3 linked regions of the Homo sapiens genome follow. The protein of the gene in region 2 interacts with the protein of the main gene of each other region in a biochemical or structural test. Each region holds a gene or a part of one and is shown on either strand. Other genes may lie near its edges.

Evidence for each region. Proteins that work in one complex are often made in the same cells at the same time.
Region 1: the proteins of UBE4A (region 2) and RSAD2 form a complex in vitro, tested with the Homo sapiens proteins (one study listed by BioGRID).
Region 3: of the proteins of UBE4A (region 2) and NFE2L1, one has a biochemical effect on the other in vitro, tested with the Homo sapiens proteins (one study listed by BioGRID).

The regions. Positions count from the first base shown.
Region 1 is NC_000002.12:6,894,744-6,898,739, forward strand, and holds the end of RSAD2 (S-adenosylmethionine-dependent nucleotide dehydratase RSAD2), read left to right. Parts: intron 1-1,034; coding exon 1,035-1,199; 3' UTR 1,200-3,496; downstream 3,497-3,996.
Region 2 is NC_000011.10:118,362,597-118,369,629, reverse strand, and holds part of UBE4A (ubiquitin conjugation factor E4 A), read right to left. Parts: intron 4,591-7,033; 5' UTR 4,550-4,590; coding exon 4,429-4,549; intron 1,000-4,428; coding exon 826-999; intron 208-825; coding exon 95-207; intron 1-94.
Region 3 is NC_000017.11:48,044,424-48,051,358, reverse strand, and holds the start of NFE2L1 (endoplasmic reticulum membrane sensor NFE2L1), read right to left. Parts: upstream 3,001-6,935; 5' UTR 2,897-3,000; intron 2,579-2,896; exon of another isoform or gene 2,495-2,578; intron 753-2,494; 5' UTR 241-752; coding exon 1-240.

The DNA.
Region 1 (3,996 bases), on a different chromosome or scaffold from region 2:
GCTGGTATTTTGTTATTTTCAAGTTAACCAATCATTGTTTATACCCATTTCATTTCTTAACAATATAAGCTTTCTTAATAGAGCATAAGGGAAAAGGTGATAAGGAAAACATTTAGTTTCTGGGTCCAAGGTAGAGAGGAAAATTCAAACAATTTATTTTTGGAGTGGAAATTATTATGATTGTCTAGTGATTTTGACCAGCATCCCTCAACAAACTCACTGGTCTCCACATATTTGGAAAACACATCGTTGAACCAAAATTTGCTTTTACCAATTGAATAACATTTTGCTTCAATAAGTATTACTTGAGCTCCTATGAAACACTCAGTGTAGGTCGTAAGGAGTGTGAAGAAATCGTTTCTGCCTACAGAGTAGAATAGGACAGACTAAAACAAATGAAAATGGATGGAATAAGATTAAAACAAAGAGCCTTCGCAGGTCATGGAAGACTCTTCTTGATCTGGCACCTGCCATGGAAGACTCCTCTTGATCTGGCACCTGCCTGCCTCAGCAGCACCTTTCTTTTCATCCTCTCTCCGTTTCTCAAAACAAGCCTTTATTAATATTTACATATATGCATGCATGCACGGATGCATGCACATCATTACTATTCCAGAAACACCGTCTACCTCCATTTCCCCAGTACATCATGCTATATCACACTTCTGTGCTTTTATGATACCATTCCCTCCAATTTAAAATCTCAACACATAATTCAGATGTTAGCATTTGGGGCAAGCCTCTCCTGATTACCCCTTCCCCCAGTGGAACTACATCTGCCCATGCGGGGCGCATATCATTCTGTTTATTGTGCGCTTAGGTGTCTACTGTACTTAGCCCAGCCTCTTCCACCAGACCATGAGCTGGTTGAGTAGAGAGATGGGGTCCAAGGGGTTCAATATCAGCCACAGATTTCAAAAGATACCTGTCGACATGACTGGAATATCAAAAGCTATTTGGGATTAATAGTCTAGATTGAGTTTTACAGGATTCATCACATGGAAATATACCAGTTTCTGTTATGAATTTTCTAGATGCGCTTTCTGAACTGTAGAAAGGGACGGAAGGACCCTTCCAAGTCCATCCTGGATGTTGGTGTAGAAGAAGCTATAAAATTCAGTGGATTTGATGAAAAGATGTTTCTGAAGCGAGGAGGAAAATACATATGGAGTAAGGCTGATCTGAAGCTGGATTGGTAGAGCGGAAAGTGGAACGAGACTTCAACACACCAGTGGGAAAACTCCTAGAGTAACTGCCATTGTCTGCAATACTATCCCGTTGGTATTTCCCAGTGGCTGAAAACCTGATTTTCTGCTGCACGTGGCATCTGATTACCTGTGGTCACTGAACACACGAATAACTTGGATAGCAAATCCTGAGACAATGGAAAACCATTAACTTTACTTCATTGGCTTATAACCTTGTTGTTATTGAAACAGCACTTCTGTTTTTGAGTTTGTTTTAGCTAAAAAGAAGGAATACACACAGGAATAATGACCCCAAAAATGCTTAGATAAGGCCCCTATACACAGGACCTGACATTTAGCTCAATGATGCGTTTGTAAGAAATAAGCTCTAGTGATATCTGTGGGGGCAAAATTTAATTTGGATTTGATTTTTTAAAACAATGTTTACTGCGATTTCTATATTTCCATTTTGAAACTATTTCTTGTTCCAGGTTTGTTCATTTGACAGAGTCAGTATTTTTTGCCAAATATCCAGATAACCAGTTTTCACATCTGAGACATTACAAAGTATCTGCCTCAATTATTTCTGCTGGTTATAATGCTTTTTTTTTTTTGCCTTTATGCCATTGCAGTCTTGTACTTTTTACTGTGATGTACAGAAATAGTCAACAGATGTTTCCAAGAACATATGATATGATAATCCTACCAATTTTCAAGAAGTCTCTAGAAAGAGATAACACATGGAAAGACGGTGTGGTGCAGCCCAGCCCACGGTGGCTGTTCCATGAATGCTGGCTACCTATGTGTGTGGTACCTGTTGTGTCCCTTTCTCTTCAAAGATCCTGAGCAAAACAAAGATACGCTTTCCATTTGATGATGGAGTTGACATGGAGGCAGTGCTTGCATTGCTTTGTTCGCCTATCATCTGGCCACATGAGGCTGTCAAGCAAAAGAATAGGAGTGTAGTTGAGTAGCTGGTTGGCCCTACATCTCTGAGAAGTGACGGCACACTGGGTTGGCATAAGATATCCTAAAATCACGCTGGAACCTTGGGCAAGGAAGAATGTGAGCAAGAGTAGAGAGAGTGCCTGGATTTCATGTCAGTGAAGCCAAGTCACCATATCATATTTTTGAATGAACTCTGAGTCAGTTGAAATAGGGTACCATCTAGGTCAGTTTAAGAAGAGTCAGCTCAGAGAAAGCAAGCATAAGGGAAAATGTCACGTAAACTAGATCAGGGAACAAAATCCTCTCCTTGTGGAAATATCCCATGCAGTTTGTTGATACAACTTAGTATCTTATTGCCTAAAAAAAAATTTCTTATCATTGTTTCAAAAAAGCAAAATCATGGAAAATTTTTGTTGTCCAGGCAAATAAAAGGTCATTTTAATTTAGCTGCAATTTCAGTGTTCCTCACTAGGTGGCATTTAAATGTCGCCTGATGTCATTAAGCACCATCCAAAAAGTCTGCTTCATAATCTATTTTCAAGACTTGGTGATTCTGAAAGTTTTGGTTTTTGTGACTTTGTTTCTCAGGAAAAAAAATATTCCTACTTAAATTTTAAGTCTATAATTCAATTTAAATATGTGTGTGTCTCATCCAGGATAGGATAGGTTGTCTTCTATTTTCCATTTTACCTATTTACTTTTTTTGTAAGAAAAGAGAAAAATGAATTCTAAAGATGTTCCCCATGGGTTTTGATTGTGTCTAAGCTATGATGACCTTCATATAATCAGCATAAACATAAAACAAATTTTTTACTTAACATGAGTGCACTTTACTAATCCTCATGGCACAGTGGCTCACGCCTGTAATCCCAGCACTTGGGAGGACAATGTGGGTGGATCACGAGGTCAGGAGTTCGAGAACAGCCTGGCCAACATGGTGAAACCCCGTCTCCACTAAAAATACAAAAATTAGCCAGGCATGGTGGCGTACACTTGTAATTCCAGCTACTCAAGAGGCTGAGGCAGGAGGATTGCTTGAACCCTGAAGGCAGAGGTTACAGAGCCAAGATAGCGCCACTGCACTCCAGCCTGGATGACAGAGCAAGACTCCGTCTCAAAAAAAAAAAAAAAAAAAAGCAAGAGAGTTCAACTAAGAAAGGTCACATATGTGAAAGCCCAAGGACACTGTTTGATATACAGCAGGTATTCAATCAGTGTTATTTGAAACCAAATCTGAATTTGAAGTTTGAATCTTCTGAGTTGGAATGAATTTTTTTCTAGCTGAGGGAAACTGTATTTTTCTTTCCCCAAAGAGGAATGTAATGTAAAGTGAAATAAAACTATAAGCTATGTTAAATACATTTTCAGCTGTTTTATCCACCATTATTCACAGGCCACGCCCACACCACCCCCACCCCCACCACCACCACCTAATGCACTGTCAGGATTTGCAAGGCCTTAATGTTTAAAATATTCAAATGTTAATTTCTCTTAAAGGGGAGAAATAAGGACTTCTAACATTAGAGTAAATTCAAATTCAGCCTATATAGTGTTTTGCTTTATGTTTTCAGTTTTAAATGTGAGTGTTAGTTTTGTAAAACACATTTAATTGGGAAAGCAAGGAACAATTTCACGGAGGTATCTTATGTGTTAAGGGAAGATATTTTATGTTGCATTTAATTCTTTCTTTTTTTAATCCAAAATTTTATTTGACCATGTTTGTCTAGAAGTGACAATATTGTTTCTTACGTTAACTAGAACTGGAGCCTGGAGATAGAAAATAAGTCTAGTTACATAAAAATTTTAAATTTATGCACATTTGAATTTATCAATTATGAATATATACACTCTACACAATGAA
Region 2 (7,033 bases):
ATGGACACAAGCATAAGTTGGAGAACAGTGAGCAGAATTCAGCCGCATAGCTAATTTTTGCTAAGGGCACACATTAGGAACGTAAGAATATTACCTGCTCAACATTGCTCATATCAAGCCAGTCTTGATCTTCTAGCTCTACTGCCATTTCTTCCAAATACACACAACGGCTAGGGATGCCATTCCCGCTTTTCAAGCTGGGATCACCTGGGAAATGGTTTTAATATGATAGGTTAAGGATAATGCTTCTGTTTTATACAGACAACTGATCTTGACAGCATCACTCTTGAACTGCAAATCTGACTCAAGTAATACCAGAATGATCCTGATACACAAAGCAACATCTAAAGATTCAAATCTTTTTTTTTCCCCCTCTAGTCACAGAGAATGGGATTTGTTATAAACCTAGCATCATGACATTTAAAGAGTAAATCCCAGACATTAGTACCAACCTTGGGGTTTAAACACAGACAGGGCACAGAGGGCAAACACTCTCTGATGCCTCTGAAGGCTTCCATCTGAATATTTAGGTTACCTCTGAGAAGAAAATGGGTTTGGCTACCCTTCCCATTTCCTTTTTAAGGTAGTAAAGGCAAGTAGCTATATAGTGCAGTCAGTATTGAAATGGGAACAAAAGTTAGATCTGCATCTAAATACTGTTTTTAGGTCATACCAAAAGGTTCACTGAAATATAAACCCTGAGTTCCAGGGAGTGCAGTGAGTAGGTTTGTATCTAACCATTAGCTGTAACCAGTTTCAAAGAGCAAGCCCCTAGCCCAAGCTCAAATAGGAAGGGTAGAATAATGCTATAAGTTTGTAACTCACTGTTGTCCAGAGTAATAAGGAAGATCCTTTGGATCATGTGATTGATGTTGAGTTGCTCACATATTTCCTGCTGTGATCGGAATGAGCGGCTAATCTCAGCCACAGAGTAATCGAATTCATCCAGGCTCTCTGACACGCTATTATCCGAGTCATCTGGGCTAGCTGGGAGTTCATCTGCCAGAAAATGTATACTGTTAAATGTTACACCCCTTTAAGAGAGAACCAAGCATGCTACCAAAAATAATAAATGTAACCAAGAAGATGATAATTTCAGATGTAAAACAAGCTAATCATCTAATTAGTGAACATCTCAAGTCAGGGAAGTTAAATATAGGGTTTTGAAATTCCTGGCTATAAATCCTACCACATTTTACAAAGCAAAAGTTTTATTTCTATCCATAATTATACTCCACACTGCCAGAAATAGCAAAGTTATCTTCTCTACAGAATCCTAGTGAACAAAGAATTACCTAATAGATCAAAATGCCTTTAATTATTTTAAATGTATGGCTTTTCTCCCTGATTTTAAGAGATAACATTTGTTTTAATAGTTCTTAACTGTACAGAAAAATATAGTATAGAAAGTCTCCTGAACCAATTCCCTAAAGACACTTAACAGTGTTCAAGAATTTTTTTCTTTTCTGGTGCTAATATTCATTACTATCTTTTTAATTTTTTTAAAAAATGGGATACTATACATAGCTCTTTTCAGCTTGCCTTTTAATCAGCACCAACACCTTTCCCTGTTAGGCCATTTAGAGGCCTACCTCACTATTTTTAATAGCTGTATTGTATCACATCTTTTGCATGCCCTGTGGTTTATGTAGCTACTTTTCAACTGATGAACAATAGGGTTGTTTCTAATATTTCATGATTTTAAATACTGCACTGAATACAATACAACTTAACTCTTTTTGTTTACTTGTATGAGTATTTCTATAGGATAAATTCACAGTAGCAGAACTGCTGGATCAAAGAGCTTGAACATTTAAAAAGTTAACATTTACTGCCTGGCACGGTGGCTCACACCTGTAATCCCAGCACTTTGGGAGGCTGAGGCAGGCGGATCACGAGGTCAGGAGATTGAGACCATCCTGGCTAACATGGTGAAACCCCATCCCTACTAATACAAAAAATTAGCCAGGCGTGGTGGCACACACCTGTAGTCCCAGCTACTCGGGAGGCTGAGGCAGGAGAATTGCTTAAACCCGGGAGGCAGAGGTTGCACTGCACTCCAGCCTCGGTGACAGAGCAAGACTTCGTCTCAAAAAAAAAAAAAAAAAAAAGTTAACATTTACTACCAAGTTACCCTCAAAGAGACTGTCTGATTTACATGCAAACCCAACAGTATATGAGAGAGTGCCTGTTTGAATCTTCACAAATTTCATAGGTAAAAAAACAATTTAATGGTTGTTTTAATTGGCACTTCTCTAATGATTGATGAGAATAAATTTTTTAATCATTTGGTTATAAGTTGCATGTCACATCTTTTGTACCTTTTTATTCTTTCTTGTTATTTTTTTCTTATTGATGAAATTCCTTCGATTTTTTTTTTTTTAAACTTCTGTCCTCAAAATCTGCTCCCATCCTTTGATTTTTTTTTTTGAGATGGACTCTCACTCTGTCGCCCAGGCTGGAGTGCAGTGGTGTGATCTCGGCTCACCGCAACCTCTACCTCCCAGGTTCAAGTGATTCTCCTGCCTCAGCCAAGTAGCTGGGACTACAGGCGCCCACCACCACGCCCGGCTAATTTTTGTATTTTTAGTAGAGATGGGGTTTCACCATGTTGGCCAGGCTGGTCTCAAACTCCTGACCTCAGGTGATCCGCCCACCTTGGCCTCCCAGAGTGCTGGGATTATAGGCGCCTGTCATCATGCCCGACTAATTTTTGTGTTTTTAGTAGAGACGGGGTTTTGTCATGTTGGCCAGGCTGGTCTCGAACTCCTGACCTCCGGTGATCTGCCCACCTAGGCCTCCCAAGGAGCTGGGATTACAGGCGCGAGCCACTGCGCCCAGCCCCATCATTCATGTTGAATGACTACATAAAAGTAGTGTTATTCACTATATGCCACATATGAGTCTATATGTACTTTTCTCTATTGACAGAATGGCTAGTCTGAAAGTCCAGGTAAAACTCTCAAAGTAAGAGTTGTTTCAGTGTGGTGAGTATAAGCTCAACATAGGAAGCCAAAGGTTTTGGCAAAGTACTAATTGCTAGTGGAAACAGGTTGGACCTGGTGGCATGATAAACTCAGTGTAAACAAACTAGGATGATGAGGTGCCAAAATAGTAACAGAAGGGCATGTGCCTGCAATGCTCCCAACTCTAGCCAGATTTATGTCTGTTTATAGCCAGAAGGACAAGCGTTCTGTTGCTCAGCTGCTATACTGTTGAGTTTTTCTCTGACCTCCAATGGTGACAGAAGCTAAGAATCTGTTTAGCAAAATTTCCCTCAACCACATACTCATAAATCATACTTTCTCATTCCTTATTTTTCCTATTTTTCACTCTGCTTTTTCCCCTACAATCTTCTAAACCAGAGTTTCCCATTCTGGCCCCGTATCATAGAAATCTGGGAGAGATTTCAGAGACTGAAAATACCATGTTAAAAAAAATCAACATTGATTTTGTTTTTCCCTTGCATCAATCACTTATCTGTCTTGCCTTTACCTCTTTTTTCTTCAGCCCTTTCTAACTGAAAGGCCAAAAGTCAGCTATGCACCTGAGTGTTTTTTTTTTTTTTAAATAAACAAAATAAAGGGAAAATGCAAACACTTCTCCTTCTCTCAAAAGAAAAACACTATTATTCTTTTCGGAGAGAGGAGAAGGGGAGCAATTTCTGGTTTGAAAGATTGTGAATATCTTCAGAAGACTAACATATTTGAGAAAAATCCTAATTCTTCTAGTGTATATGTCTCCTTATAGGAGGAAGCTGGACTTGATCTTAAATTCGGTGCCTGAAAGAAAACCATTTTTTCTGATTACTGAGATGTTATTCTGATGTTTTTCATAGTAAGGCTAAGGATCAGATTTTTTAAAAAAGTCTGTCCTAACAGGACTAAGCTACAAATGATGCCACTCATCGGAACAGAAGAAGCACTTTGCTTGGGAGGGCCTTTGAAGTGCTGAGCTTAAGAACAAGTCTCATTTGCCTACAGGTCAAAAAGCTTTTATAGTTCTTCCTTTTACATCTGCTTTCTATAGCTGCACATGACTTGCTTTCTACACCTACACTTACCACCTCTGTGTCCCATGTTAAAAACATTTATTTAAATAGCTTTTACTAGGTGATTTTTTTTTTCTTTTAAAGAAAACAGCCTGACAGCTTTGGGATCACGACTGGCATCTGTTACTATGGAACCACCTGTTACCTGGTCTCTTTTTGTACAGTGGAGAGGACAGCGGAGGGGAGGGACTCACAACAAAACCAACAATAAAAGCAAACAAACAAAAAACCCCAATTTCTGCTCTCAACAAACAAACAAAAACCAACTTTTGTTCCAAACTTAAATTCCAATTGCAATTAAGGACTCAAAGAATACTTAATTTGGGAAGACCCCATTCTAGGTCATCTTATTTGCTGCTATTGGCTCCTCCACTTACCAGATTGTTGCTTCAGCTGCTCTTTTTGGATTGCCGCAAACTGTTTGGCATCAGCCAGGGAGCCAAAAAGAGCAGCAAAGGGGTTACTTGAGATGTTGTTGTTATTCTCCTGGTCTGTCATTTCACTTTAAGGTATCCTCCATCCAGACCTAGTGGGAGAGGCTGTTCAAAGGACAGGTATTAGACACAAGAGGGCAGATGACACAATAGCTGTAATATACCTGTGGTTGTTTCTTTTCCCATTTCTCAAATACAATACATTTTAAAATACTTTGGGTTAAGATTTTCCAATTCCTGTCCCCAAACTCAAGACATTTTTGGCAAAATGGTTACAAACCTACCAGCTGGACTCGGTGGCTTGATTTGTGGATAGCTGAAACTAAAAAGGCTAAAACGTTCAGCTGGAATGCATTAATCTGTTGATATACTTTTATTTGCAATACCTTTAAGAAAACAGGTTAAGTAGAAAGAATTATTGAAGTCAAAGAGAGAACTCACCTACTAATTGTAATAACAATGTGGCACTGAAAAATAATAAGACAAGAATTATGGATTTCCCAAGAATTAAGCTGGCAGTCTAGTTCTCATTCACTGGGGTGAGGACAAGGGACTTCTATGACTTAGGGCTGGGGATGGATATTTCTCAGCTACATATAAATTAAGTAAAAGCCCATATCTTAGATTTGGACTCTGGCAAATCAGGACTGGAAGCAGTTCAGCTGTATGTTGTGGGTTTTTAACATAGATTAAGCAATCTATTTATTTCTAGGCTTAAAAATACTGATATTTCTTCCACTAAAAATTAAATGGTCTTTGCTTCATGCTATATCTAACCTTCACTGTTTACCTGATTTCTTAAAATAATACTGAAGAAACACGAATTCCAACGGTCAGGTCTACTGTGTAATATGAAATATAGATACCTCAAAGGTGTTTAGTAGAGCTGGCTGAGCCTGCATTCACACTCTTCTGATTACATTTCCTCATTCAAGACCAAGTGAACTCAGTGGCACAACAGAATAAACAGGGCTCCCTGAAAGGCTTTCTCCCCTTTCTGAAATTTTAAGGCCATGACATAGAAATATTAAATACAACACTGAAAAGGGTGGGAAGAGACAAAGGGTATGAATGTTTTGTTCATAAGGATCTTGAACTGCTATAAGGACAGAGACCTTAGAAATAGCGGGAGTAGGGGTATAAAGGAAGAAAAAAAGAACATTTGGTCTACCTTTGGTTTATTGAGGCAAGACTCCTCACAGGATCATATCAACAAAAGCTAATGTGGGCCAGGTGCAGTGGCTCATGCCTGCAATCCCAGCACCCTGGGAGGCTGAGGCAGGTGGATCACCTGAGGTCAGGAGTTCAAGACCAGCCTGGCCAACATGGTGAAACCCCATCTCTACTAAAACACGAAAATTAGCCAGGCATGGCGGCAGGTGCCTGTAATCCCAGCTACTTGGGAGGCAGGAGGCTGAGGCAGGAGAATTGCTTGGACTCGGGAGGCAGAGGTTGCAGAGAGCTGAGATTGTGCCACTGCACTTCAACCTGGGTGACAGAGCGAGACTTCGTCTCAAAAAAAAAAAAAAAAAAAAAAAGCTAATGTGGTCGAAAAAGTTACCCTTATTTACCAGAGAAAGAGATTATTTATAACATTTCTTGACAATTCTGAGGCATCTTCAGCACTTGCTTCATGCTCCTCTGCCATTTTTTCCACACAAGAGCTAACGGCTAATTAGCTGTAATGACTTAGGCAGTCTAGTCTCCTCTCAGTGCAGCTCAAAGCTTTACTGCTTCAAGGAATTGAACTGTTATTTGGATTTTTAGTAGAGACGGGGTATCACCATGTTGGCCAGGCTGGTCTCGAACTCCTGACCTCAAGTGATCCTCCCACCGCGGCCTCCCAAAGTGCTGGAATTATAGGCATGAGTCACTGCGCCTGGCCTTCTGTATTTTATTTTTTGCTATGTATATTTCAGTAAGCTTAATAATGCAAAAAAAGGGAAAGATACCATATTTAGTATTGAAATTAATGAGAGGGATTTTCCCCATGTAATTACCGCACAAGTTTAATTATTACCTGTAGTTAATGTAAAAACACCAAGAATTGTCTTATTGTTAGCTGACCACCATTCTACTTCCATCCTAAAATACCACAAATTCCAGAGGAATGCAAAAAGTATATTGAGCTCTTGTTATTTCTCTCTCTAAAACATCACATTCATTTTTTTCCTTTGGGTATCCACTCCACTCAATCCAGAAGAGGCTGACCAGTTCAGAAGGGGTTGACCTCACCCACTAGCCCCAGGAATGAACATACAAGTCTGGCCAGGCTAAAAAGAATACAGCATTTTCCAGCCAAAGCAACTGATCCAGGAGTGGGCACAAGACACTATGGAGGCCTAACAGAGTCAATGAATACCAGCTTCAGGACTTCAGCTGAATCTACGGAAAAGTGAGTTTTCTCCTGATTGAGTTGATAAGCCAGTAAGATAGAGTTGCCATCTTTACACCATTTAGAAAAGGCCTAGCCTAAAACCAAGCCAACATACACTAGAAAACAGAATTGAGAGATGGAAAGATAAGTCTGGACTTTTCAGTTATAAAA
Region 3 (6,935 bases), on a different chromosome or scaffold from region 2:
GGCAGTGAAGTAATTGTCCAGGTCTATGCTCTTGGGGTGGATACCATAGCCATCCAAGGTATTCCTCAGGTTGTGGAACTGGGTCTGAGTATAGGCAGAACTGGGCCCCAGGATGATCTCCCGGAGTGGGGGAAGCTGTGAGGTCAGGTAAGTATCCACGTCCACCCGTACCCCAATCAAACTCAGCAGAATGGTGAACTGGAGAAGTCCTTCCGTTAAGTATTTCTTCAGAGAAAGCATTGCTGAAGGACCAGAATGTTTATGCTTTTTGGTTTTTAAAATCTTCCAAAAGACAAATCAAGGCCACTGCTCTGCCGCTCCAGCCAGCAGGTTACCCTCCTCAGTGTCAAACCCCGTACCCCACCCTGGCAGAACACAAGGGATGAGCTCCCTGACGGCCCCAGAGGAAAGCACACCCTGTGGAGCCAAGGCCAAGGACACACTCCAGACCACATTCACTTTCCCTTCTCGACACCTCACCTCTGAAAGTACAACTGTTCCTAACCCAGTCCAGGTCCTCAAGGGCCCACGTGACTTACTTTCTCCACAGTCCACATACAGTCACTTCCTCACTCACATTAGTTGTCCTCTCTGTAGATTCCAATGCAGGCTGTTCTCAGGAACAGCTGATGGATTTTTTTTTTCCTTCTCCCTCCTAAGGTTTATTTTCTTTGGCTGGAGCTACAGGCCTTTCGTCTTGGGTCAGAGTGTCCCGCCTCCTCCACACTTACCAGGGGGGTTTCCAGAGAAACCTGAAATGGGAATCACAAAAGCAACAGGATAAGATTCCATACTTTTCACATCATGATCAGGGTAGGAAAACCTTCACAGTAGAAGGTAGAAAACACATTCAAAGGACACTTTCACTTTTTTTTTTTTTGAGACAGAGTCTCACTCTGTCGCCCAGGCTAGAGTGCAGTGGCGTGATCTGTGCTCACTGCAACCTCCACCTTCTGCATTCAAGCGATTCTCCTGCCTCAGCCTCCCAAGTATCTGGGATTACAGGCGCCTGCCACCACGCCCTGCTAATTTTTGTATTTTTAGTAGAGATGGGGTTTCACTATGTTGGCCAGGCTGGTCTCAAGCTCCTGACCTCAGGTGATCTGCCCGCCTCGGCCCCCCAAAGTGCTGGGATCACAGGCGTGAGCCACTGTGCCTGGCCTAAAGGCCACTTTTACAGGAAGAAAGGACTACTTACACTCTCAGAAAAAAAACCCAAAATATAGCAACCGATCATAGAAGAACTATCAAAGAAAGCTACTGATCACGAATGATCTCAGTTACTGAATATTAAATGTGCAATATCCTAAAATGTAGCTTGGTTTGAATAAGCAGACAATAACCAGGTCATCCAAAATATCTTACACCTTTGTTTTATTTACCAGCCCTCCTCCCCCACTACAGGCGCATTACCCAGCTTCTATTTTCACATGAGAAGCCCATTTCCTGTCTTAAAAGTAAAGCTGGATTTTCACCCCTCGGGAGAAAACCACCCATAACAGTTGTCTTTTCTCAGTTCAAAAAGGCAAGATTATTAAACAGTGAGAGTGTGGAAGGACAAAAGGACAATGTTCAGGCCACCACTTCACCCAGAAGAAGAATGCCTTTTGTTTTCTGAACTTTGAAATCTGATTTCCCTTTCCTATCCTCACAACTTACAAAAGAAAAAAAAGGAAAAGGGCCGACGCCTGTAATCCCAGCACTTCGGGAGGCCGAGGAGGGCGGATCACCCGAGGTCGGGAGTTTGAGACCAGCCTGAACAACATGGAGAAACCCCATCTCAACTAAAAATACAAAAATTAGCCGGGCGTGGTGGCGCATGCCTGTAATCCCAGCTACTCGGGAGGCTGAGACAGGAGAATCGCTTGAACCCAGGAAACGGAGGTTGTGGTGGGCCGATATCGCGCCACTGCACTCCAGCCTGGGCAACAAGAGCAAAACTCCGTCTCAAAAAAAGAAAAAAAAGAAAGAAAAGAAAAGGAAAGAAAAAAAGGAGAGGGATGGTGGGGGCCCTACTACGCAGGACTATTCCGTCCAGAATTTGCATAGGCAGGTTTTATTTTCATTCATATGACCTTCTGAGCCAAAGCAGAAGGATATGGCCACGTTCTCTAGCCAGACTGCCCAGTGCAGAGGAAGTAAATCTGTTTCTGGTCTCCACTTTTGAGCTTCCATTAATGTCACAAACCAAGACATACCGCCTCTCCTCTCCTGCGTTGTGACCCATCTACCAACTTCATTCTACAGGGGGAGAGCGAGCTATACGTACACACACGAACGTGCGCACACACACACACTCACACTCCCTCTCTCTGGTCAGAGTAAACACAATTGCGACCCAGAATTCCTGCTTACGCTACCCTCCCGTTCTCACGCAATTTATTACTAAAACCTCCCAGGAGCCAATTAAGTTCGAGGAACCGGACAAAGTCCCTTAAAAATCAAGTAGGTGCAGGGCCCATAGCCTGAGGCTGGTCCCACCCTGCCCGGATACCCGAGTCCGGCTGAGACCAAGTCGCCATGCCCACTCTCGGCGCCGGAGCTTCTAGCCTCCAGGGGCGGCCAGCGAACAAGTGCTACTTCCCTGGCCTTGACCCACCCTTACAGCAAACCCCACCCCGCCCTCCGTCCCGATGGCCCCACCCCACTCCCAAGTCCAGGCCTCACACCACGCCTTCTCGTGCCCTCAACCCTGCCCAGTCCATCCCACCCCGGAGCCAGCTTTCCTCTCGGCCCCGCGCGGGGCCCCTCCCTGTCAGGCCCAGGGCCGGGCTCTGGCGGGAACCCCGCTCGGCCCCCGCCTCCTGCACCTCAGCACCATCCCGTCGCCCCATAAGCCTCGGCCCCGCGGCGCTGCAACCCTCCCTTCTGGGAAAGGAATGTGCCCGATACCCACTGCTTAGCTCGGCGTCCGCCGCTGCCTCCACAGCAGGCCCTAAGCCCGAGTCCCGGCCTCGCCGCCGCCACCGCCGGCCGGCCTAGAGCTCGGAGCCTCCGCTTACCTCCCCGCCCCCTCCTGCTACCGCACTCGGAAACCCGCCCGCCGCAAACACCCTAGGAACAGTTTCTCCAATCAACGAGCCGAGGCCGGGGCCGTCGACGGATGTCCCTCTGATTGGCAGCAGAGAGGGCCCAATGGCTGAGTGTACCTCCTCATCCCCGGACCTGATTTCCCAAGACTGACATAATTCCCGGCCCAATGAGTACCTAGGCCCGCCCCGCGGTATGGACCCACCAATGAGGAGGGCGAAGGCCCTAGTGTCTGGCATTCTGGGCCCCTCGGCCGCGCCTTCGCGGCGGGCGATGTTAGTGGGCTTGGGCGTTGGGTGAAGTATCCAGGTTGGGCGCTTCCAGCGCTTTCTGTGGCGGGGGAATGAAGGCCTAGGTCAGGGAATAGGAAGGTGTATCGCCGCCAGAGTGCGGAACACCCTCGCCTTGAGGGTTCCCACAGTGACTTGCAAAAGTCTAGTGAGACCCGAGAATGCTGAGGCGGGACACGAAGCATGTGGTTCTTGTGGTTGCGACGCTCGTGCCGCCATCTTGGGTGCTGGCGGCGGAAACCGGTACCCCAACTTCCCCTCGGTGCGAACCTGGAGAAGCCACCCCAGCTGTGAGGGACGGTTGCGCCTCATGGCCCAGGCAAGGGTACCTTCGCTGGAGCAGTACCGCGGACGGATATCATGAGGGTGGTGGGACGTTGGCGGAACGTTGGCGGAACGTTGGCGGTGTGAGAGGTGTGGGGTAATGGCGATTTTTGTCATGGTAGAAACAGCCCAAAGGACCCCCCTCGTTTGGCCTCCCACGCAGCTTAGTCTTGCTTTTTTAGGGATGTTTCTCATTTTTTAATTTCTCCAGTCCCATCTGGTTATATTGCCAAAACATGTTTGTGACTCTCAAACGTTAGTTTACTCCCAGCATCACTTGGGGAGCTTGCTAAGCTACGAATTCCGAGGTCCCACTGGAGAGTCTGATTTAATGACCCTGGAGTGGCGGCCGGATAACCTGCCTGCTGGGGTGATTTTAACGCAGCTGATGCGAAGACCCCATTTAGGGAATCATTGGGTTGGCGTTTGCAATGCGTTCCTCCCAGCTATAGGACAAAGAGGTGTCAACTCAACTGTGTCTTCTTAGAAGAGCCCATTATTTATAGGTGAGTCATTAGTCCCTGTACAACTAAGGACAAGGCCAACTGATAACTCAGTAAATAATCGAGTCCATTTTGTGCTTGCGAGTTAGGGGCTTAATTTGGGGTGGTTTGCAGATTAAGTACTTTCACTGCATATAATAAACGTACACCAGCAAACCACTCATGGAATTCTTAAAAAAACTTCTGAGCTAGTTTACCAGTTTCAAAGACTAATTCAGAGAGCATGTTTTACCTATTCTAGGCTGGACTGGAACTCCTGGACTCAAGCGATCTTTCCATTTATCAGGGACTACTGACGCGTGTCTCCCAATAAATACCTGAGTATAAACAACATGAGGACTAGAATTTTGTGCGTTAACTGTTATAACTTAGTAGACACTCAAATACTGAGTACTTGAAGGGGGACTCAAGCAGGCAGGCCTCTGATTTTCCTGTTAAAAGCAGAAATTAACCACACCTTGGAGGATGTACAGTTTTGAAGGATATGGCATGTTAACAATAAAATAGGAGACCATTCAGTCCCCGAAGTAGTGAGACAATGAAGATAAAGACTGGTATTGTATAAGAAAGGAGGAATATTTAGGTGTGGCCATCAACTCTAAAAATAAATAAGGTTGAGAAGGAAGTATTTTAAACATAGAACTGGGCCCGGCGCAGTGGCTCACAGTAGCACCTTGGGAGGCCGAGGCGGGAGGATTGCTTGACCAGCCTGGGCAGCATAGTGAGACCCCCGTCGCTACAAAAAAACAAGCTGGGCTTGGTGCCACACATCTATAGTCCCAACTACTCAGGAGGCTGAGGTGGGAGGATTTCTTGAGCTGGGAGATTGAGGCTGCAGTGAGCTATGATGGTGCCAGTCTGGGCAACAGTGAGATGCTTCCTCAACAAAACAAAACATAAAATTGAGAGATATAAAGGCTCAACTACAGTGTTTAACTACAAGACAATTTTGAGAAGGTGAAAAGAGCATACTAAAGTTGGTCTTTTTTTGACAGAAAAATACAGAACAATTTTCAGTCCTAACAGTTCAAACTAAAACTGGACAATCGTTTATCTGTGGAGTTTCCTGCTTAGCCATTTCACAAAGGTGGGCAGAAAAAGGGAAAGAGTTGCAAGGGCCGAAGAGAGTAAAGGTGTAGAGACAAACTCAGTCGCAACAGCAGGCCTAGGCCTGGCAGGGTGTGGGCGCCCAGGATATTTGATGCTCCATGGAAGGGAGTGGAGACAGAAAGACTGTCTTCCATTCTGTCTAGAGTTCCAGATCAAGTCTGAGCAGGTGCAAGCTTTCCCAGAACCTGCTGATTAACCTTGTAAAACCCAGGGTGTGTCCTTCTTCACCCAGGAAGCCACCCCCTCCTTTCCCCCAACACTCTCCCCCTCCCTTTGCCTGGGACAGCTGTTAATAGGACAGTTACCCAAGAAGCAAAAGAAGGATCCCATGCTGATGTGTCATCAGTCCCGGTATATCCATTAAATCAGACTGAGAAGACCACTGGAAAAAGTGAGCGCATGCATGTGGCTCCCTAAGGGAAAGGCTGGCAGCCATTGTAAAACTAGGCCTTGCCCCTGCGACTCCAGGCTGGGCAGGAGAGAGAAGAAGGCAGTGGAAGCCGAGAAGAGGGTTAGGTCTAAAGCACACGGATTTGGGGCCAGCTAACTATAAAACATACACGGAAATCCCCACCCCCACCCCAGGAATAGCAGTGTAGTGTCTACCGACCCAGCTTCCCTGGTAGGAAAAGCTGCTGCTGCCGCCAACAGCCACATCCATCCTGCAGTCATCCCTGGAGGATGACACATGCCAGGAATCCTCAGAGAAGGGGCTGTGGGAGGGCAGGCTGGCTGGGGCTCTGATTTCTTCTGGAACAGTGAAATTGCTTTTTCCCTAAAAGGGAAACCCAGGCTTTCTGCCATTCTGGTTGTCCATTATCTTTCCTCTAAAAATGTCTCTAAGGCCAGGCACAGTGGCTCACACCTGTAACCCCAGCACTTCGAGAGGCCCAGGTGGGCAGATCACTTGAGCCAGGAGTTTGAGACCAGCCTGGCCAACATAGTGAAAACCCATCTCTACAAAAAAAATACAAAAATTAGCCAGGCGTGGTGGTTCATGCCTGTAGTCCTAGCTAGTGGGGAGGCTGAGGTGGAAAGATCACCCGATCCTGGGGAGGTTGAGGGTGCAGTAAGCTGTGATTGCGCCATTGCACTCCAGTCTGGGCAACAGAGTAAGACCCTGTCTCAAAAAAAATAATAAAAAGAAAAACATGTCTTTAAGTTTTGCTAATCCATATAAGTATTTCTTACTCTGTAACCTCATCTAATCCAGGGGAATAGATTAGATAGATGATTGCCTGAGATTTCCTTACAGTCCTGAGAGATGGTAGGAATACATCATGTCAATACTAAATGTTAGCATGTTTTGCAAAGAAATCAATTAGTTTTCTGGCAAATCCGGACATATGGCCCTCTCTCTTATATGGTAAACATCATCAGCAAGCTTGTTACCATTAAACCACCAAAAAGTAAAGCTCTCCTGCAAGCCAGCCTCTTTCCTATGCACCACTACCACACTCTTAGAAGATTGCTTCTCAATCCTGGCTGCATATTAGAATCACCCAGGTGGGTAGCTCGTAAGAAATACCAATGCCCAGGTCCCACCCCACACCAATTAAAACAGCTGCCCAGAGCAGAATTGGACATCAGTATTTTGTAAAAGCTCTTCAGGTGATTCTTATGCACAGCCAGAGTAGAGAATCACTAGGTTGGAGCAAGAATCCACATTGGGGTAAAA